Regions from separate parts of the Homo sapiens genome. Here region 2 is linked to region 1. A link means that fine-mapping ties the variant in region 1 to the expression of a gene that starts in the linked region. Tissue or cell type: thyroid. Region 1 holds a variant in brackets; the other region holds the start of a gene. All regions are shown on one strand. Distances are between the middles of the regions.

What was found. PIP is the estimated chance that this variant, and not a neighbour inherited with it, causes the effect.
Region 2: CPSF4L starts here. The variant in region 1 is fine-mapped to the expression of CPSF4L in thyroid (GTEx, PIP above 0.99).

What each region holds. Positions count from the first base shown.
Region 1 is chr17:73,280,936-73,283,775 of GRCh38, forward strand. CDC42EP4 (CDC42 effector protein 4) reads right to left here. Exons shown (of 2, transcript NM_012121.5): 2 at 2,689-2,840. Among named protein-coding and RNA genes, the nearest start is that of CPSF4L, 20 kb to the left of the region's middle. RefSeq lists an enhancer at 830-959. The variant G/T (reference allele first, on the strand shown) is at 1,461.
Region 2 is chr17:73,260,720-73,263,389 of GRCh38, forward strand. It overlaps CPSF4L (cleavage and polyadenylation specific factor 4 like), which reads right to left and starts at 1,161. Exons shown (of 6, transcript NM_001129885.1): 1 at 997-1,161; 2 at 214-264. The coding sequence starts at 1,099.

The DNA of each region.
Region 1 (2,840 bases):
GCGGATCACCTGGTCAGGAGTTTGAGATCAGCCTGGCCAACATGATGAAACCCCGTCTCTACTAAAAATACAAACAAAAATTAGCCGGGTGTGGTGGCGTGCACCTGTAATCCCAGCTACCCAGGAGGCTGAGGCAGGAGAATTGCTTGAACCCGGGAGGTGGAGGCTGCAGTGAGCCAAGATTGCACCACTGCACTCCAGCCTGGGCAACAGAGCGAGACTCCGTTCTCGGAAAAGAAAAAAAAAAATCAATTAAAAAAAATAGCATGACCTCATTGCAAACAAAGCTTCTGGTAAAAAGTTGAAAACAACTGAGCTACTGCCTAATTTTAAAGATGGAGAAACTGAAGCCAATTGGAGCGAGAAAATAACTGGCCCAAGGCTACCCAGCAAATCTTTTTTAAAAAATTTATTTATTGGCTGGCTGCGGTGGCTCATGGCTGTAATCCCAGCCCTTTGGGAGGCCGAGGTGTGTGGATCATGAGGTCAGGCGTTCGAGACCAGCCTGGCCAAGATAGTGAAACCCCGTCTCTACTAAAATTACAAAAAATTAGCTGGGCCTGGTGGTGGGCGCCTATAATCCCAGCTACTCGGGAGGCTGAGGCAGGAGAATTGCTTGAACCTGGGAGGCGGAGGTTACAGTGAGCTGAGATCGTGACACTGCACTCCAGCCCAGGCGACAGTGCGAGATTCCATCTCAAAAAAAAAAAATTATTTTTTGGTAGACATGTTGTCTCGCTGTTACCCAAGTTGATCTCAAACTCTTGGTCTCAAGGGATCCTCCTGCCTCAGCCTCCCAAAGTGCTAGGATTACAGGTGTGAGCCACGGCGCCTGGCTCCCAGCAAATCTTAACAGAGCTCTGTGGCCTGGCTGGTTCTGCGTGTTCATCTCATCCTTGTCTCCTGGGTCCACTGAACCCCCAGCCAGAAGGTATGCTCCTTAAAGCTGTGAATCAAGCCAGGTCCCCGGGTCTTCTTGAATGCTCAGAGCTTTTCCATCAATGGTCAAGAAACAGATTCTGGGGCTCGGGGCGGCTGGTTTCTCTGGGCCCCTAGGGAGTCCCTGGTTAGTCGGTGTAGGTACAGTCATTTCTCTCTCTTGGGAGGTTGCACTGTGTCTGGGAGGCACAGCCCCTTCTCATCTGCCTGGTCCTCGCCTGAACAGTACCTTCCTCTCCCCAGTCATCCCTGAGCTAGACTGTAGCCCCTAGGGACCCGTCTCCCAATGGGCCCCAGCTCTCCTCCCTCTCTCTTCTTCCCTTGGGGCAGCCAGAAGTCCCCGCTCATAACTCCCACACGAATGAGCCTGTCTAGGGACAGAGGGAGGGACCTGAGTGACATTTTAATTATGCCTCTAATTGCTTTCCAGGGAGATGAGTGGGGAACTCACATTTCTCTGTGGGTGCTCAGGGGAGAGTGCAGGGTTTCCACCAGGAACTCAGCCACATTGAGATCCCCAA[G/T]ATTTCCCCAGATTTCCTGAGAGCAAGCGGGGGCTTCAACAAGCAGTGAGCCAGCCCTACGCAGACCAGGGCTCCCTTCTGAAGCTGTCCAGAAAGAGGGGAACATGATTCAAGGGAAGGAGGTGGTAGGGCAGGGGCAGGGCAGTGGGTTCAGGGGCCACTAGACCCTCACCCCCTGACTTTATATCCCGAGGTTTTGATGTGCCCAGGAGTGGTGGGGTGAGAAGGGCAGGAGTTTTGAATGAATTCTGGGCATTAGAGAAGGCGGCCTCGAGGCTTATCTGATCATCTTTCTCCATCTGGAAAATGGGGATGTGGAGCTTCTATCTCCCTGAGAAGTGAGGTTGAACTGAGGACCTGCCACTTGTAAGCTGATTTTCCAGGCTTAACGGTAAAAGGGGAAAGAGGAGGTGGTAGCCCCGCTCCCAGCATCATGCAGAAACTGCCTTCAGGGCCAGCCACTTTCTGGTGGTGACAGTTCCGTGCACCAGGACACCAGGGGGCTGGGGAGAACACAGTCACTCTCATCCTAATCACAACTGTATAAAAAGCCCATGTCGACCGGCACGGTGGCTCACACCTGTAATCCCAGCATTTTGGGAAGCCAAGGTGGGCGGATCACTTGAGGTCAGGAGTTGGAGACCAACCTGGCCAACATGGTGAAACCCAGTATCTACTAAAAATACAAAAATTAGCTGGGTGTAGTGGCGCACGCCTGTAATCCTAGCTAGTTGGGAGGCTGAGGCAGGAGAATCGCTTGCACCTAGGAAGCGGAGGTTGCAGTGAGCTGAGATCACACCCCTGCACTCCAACCTGGGCGACAGAGTGAGACTCCATCTCAAAAAAAACAAAACAACAACAACAAAAAAAAAAAACAAAAAAAAACAAAAAACCAACCCCCTCCCCCACAAAAAGCCCATGTCACTGTTTCTGTGCCTCAACCCTCTAAGAGTGGCAGGATACCCATTTTACAGAGCAGGAGAGGGAGGCACAGAACAGCTAAGCGACCAAGTGCCAAGGGCTTCCAAGAGATGGCAGTTAGGGACACCTGAGTCCCCAGACTCTGAAGGGGCCTGCCCAGGCAGACAGCATCGCAGGAAGGGCGGGTCCTCACGGACAGAGAGACAGAAGCCACCTCAGGCCCCCCTGGACAGCTCTAGGACCTGGGTCCAGACCCCACCCCCATCCTGAAATAGCCCTCCCAAAAAGCAGAGACAGACACCAGGCGTGCTTTAGGGCTTTTTTTTTAATGTTTCCTCACTGTTTTGACAATATCATGAAAAAAATCAGTTTAGAATCTGGAATTGGCCTGGACGGGATTCGAGGGCAGCTGGCGGGGGCTGCATAGCCCCTGAGGTTCCTCCCCCACCATGGGACCTA
Region 2 (2,670 bases), 20 kb before region 1:
TCACGCCAGATCACTCTAGCCTGGGCAACAGAGCGAGATTCCATCTAAAAATAAATAAATAAAATAAAAATAAAATTCCGTTCCATCCCAATTTTCCCTCCCCAGGTGCAAATTCGACACCCTATCCCAGGCCAGGCAGAGCCCCTGCTGGGTGTAGCTCAGACAGACCCTACACTCACCCAGCTTGGGGCCCAGGCCTGTCTGCTAACTCACCTTTCTCACAGAGCCCTTTAGTGAAGAAGTTGCACACAGCTGAGGCCGACTCTGGAAGGAGAAGAGGGAACGGAGAAGGTAGCTTCCCCAGAGGCTGCAGCTGTTCCGGAAGCCTCCACCTCCATCGGCATGTCCCACCTAGACCTCCCCCAGGCTCTGGCCTATGGGATCCCAAATCTGGGCCCTGTAGAGGTTAACCTGCAGAGCCAGCCAGCAGACCTCAACCCTTAACCCCCCAACTCTGAAACAGAGGAGCTCGAGGGGCTCAAGCCTGGCCCAGGAGCTCGGGAGGCCAGTGTGGCTTCTCTCAATTCACCGTCTCTCTGTGCCTCTCTTTCTCAGTCTGGAAAATGGGTTGCCCCGAAGCCACAGAAGAGAGAGACAGAGAAGGGGCGGTCGCATCAGGGAGTTGAGCAGAGAGGCCTGTAGAGAAGGAAGGGGGAGGGAGGCTGGGCGTGGTGGCTCATGCCTGTAATCCCAGCACTTTGGGAGGCCAAGGCGGGCGGATCACGAGGTCAGGAGATTGAGACCATCCTGGCTAACATGGTGAAACCCGGTCTCTACTAAAAATACAAAAAATCAGCTGGGCGTGGTGGCGGGCGCCTGTAGTCCCAGCTCCTCGGGAGGCTGAGGCAGGAGAATGGCGTGAACCCAGGAGGCAGAGCTTGCAATGAGCCGAGATTGTGCCACTACACTCCAGCCTGGGCTACAGAGCGAGACTCCGTCTCAAAGAAAAAAAAACAGAGAAGGTAGGGGAGGGAAAGTGGCCCCACCCTCACTCACTGTCCATGCCCTGGAAAGGCAGGAGCCCAGTGCCCTTCTGCATCTCGACATCCTTCTCGAAGGCAAAGGTGAACCGCTCTAGCCCCGCAATGACCTCTTGCATCTTCCGTCTCCTGCTGGGGCTGCGGAAGCTGCTGGAACCCAGGCAGGTGGGCCCAATATAGCTCATCAGAGGCCCTTAAGGGGCCAGCGCCCAATGCCTCCCCCTTCACCCCAGGGTGCCAGTGGCCAGGTGACTGCAGGGGACGCTCCAGCCTGGGCTGTACAGGAGCAGGGCCCAGCTGCCTCACCCGGCCCACCCAGTGCAGGGGCAGACACCCCAGGGCCCCTCACCCCCACACTGTGTACACAAGGCTCACTCGGATAGGGAGGGATTCGCAGAGCCCCACAAACTGCTTATCTTTGCATGTTACCGAACACAAACGTGGCGTGCACACAGACATTACCAAACCTGGGCTCATACTTTGTCCATGAAGACACAGCCACAGGTTAGCAAAGAGTTGCACAAACCAACCGCAGCAAGGCTGTTATTCTGCCAGAGCTGGGGGTGGTGGGGGTTTGCAGAGGGAGGGAGCCGTCCCACCTCCCCGCTTCTTCCCATGAGGGAAGGGGTCTCCCTCTGGGGCCCCTGACACCCCTTTTCTGGCCTGAGTGACAAGCCCCGAGTGAGCTCTTCGTGGGAGACAGGGAAAAAGGAATGAAGAGGAGAGGAACTGAAACAGTTGGATGAATGGCGCTTTGTTTACCTCGCACACAATCGCCAGCTTGGCGGGAGGGCGGAACCGACCAAGGCCAGGGCGGCCTCCCAGCCAGGATTCCACAGGGCCACCCAGTGCCACCCCACCCCTGAGAAAGTGCTTTATAAATGAAATCTCTATGCAAATGTTGTTTTATTATTATTACACCACCCCTGCCTGCAGGGCTGGGGACATCTGACAATGCTTTCAAAGGAGCATGTTAGGGCTCTAATTAGACCAGGTTCCCCCTCCCCCTGCTCTGGCCCCAAACTGGCCTTGCCTCTAACTAGAGCTGCTGTTCTCAGTCACATTGGCTTTTAATGCCCATAGAACCAGAACCCATACGCCCTCCTTTCTGGGTGCCCAAACCCAGCAGGGAGAGGTGGGCAGCCCCGCAGGCTCTCAGCTGGGCCAACATGAACTAGCCTGCTGGCTGTTGTTCCCCGTGGCTGTTGCTCCTAGATCTGTTCTTTTGAACTCCAGATCAGAAAAGAAAATAGCTGGAGAGATAGACACCTGGAGCCGAGGTGGGACTGGGAGGAGCAGGGACGAGATCCAAGAGTTTCCAGAAGCTCAGGCCTCTGACTGCATCCTGGGAGAGGCAGAGGGACCCAGCTCCAGGGCTAGAGGGTGGGGCCAAGGGGGTCCCTGGGGTAGAAACCCTGGCTTCTCTTGGCCTTAGTTGTATGCGTTGATTAGTAGTCCCAAGAATGCATTCATCTGTCAACACAGGCTCATTAAAGGCTCACAGAAGCCTGGCAGCGCAGGCAGGACTGATGAGGGAATCAAAGCCCAGGGAGGCCAAGACCACATGGTTTGGGAGGCGCTATGGATGGGGTTCACATCTAGGTCTCTTGATGACTTCCTTCCCTAAACATCCCTGAGCATCTCTGCACTAGGGCCACGTCCCTATCCTCAGAGATGGCCCCATCAAGGA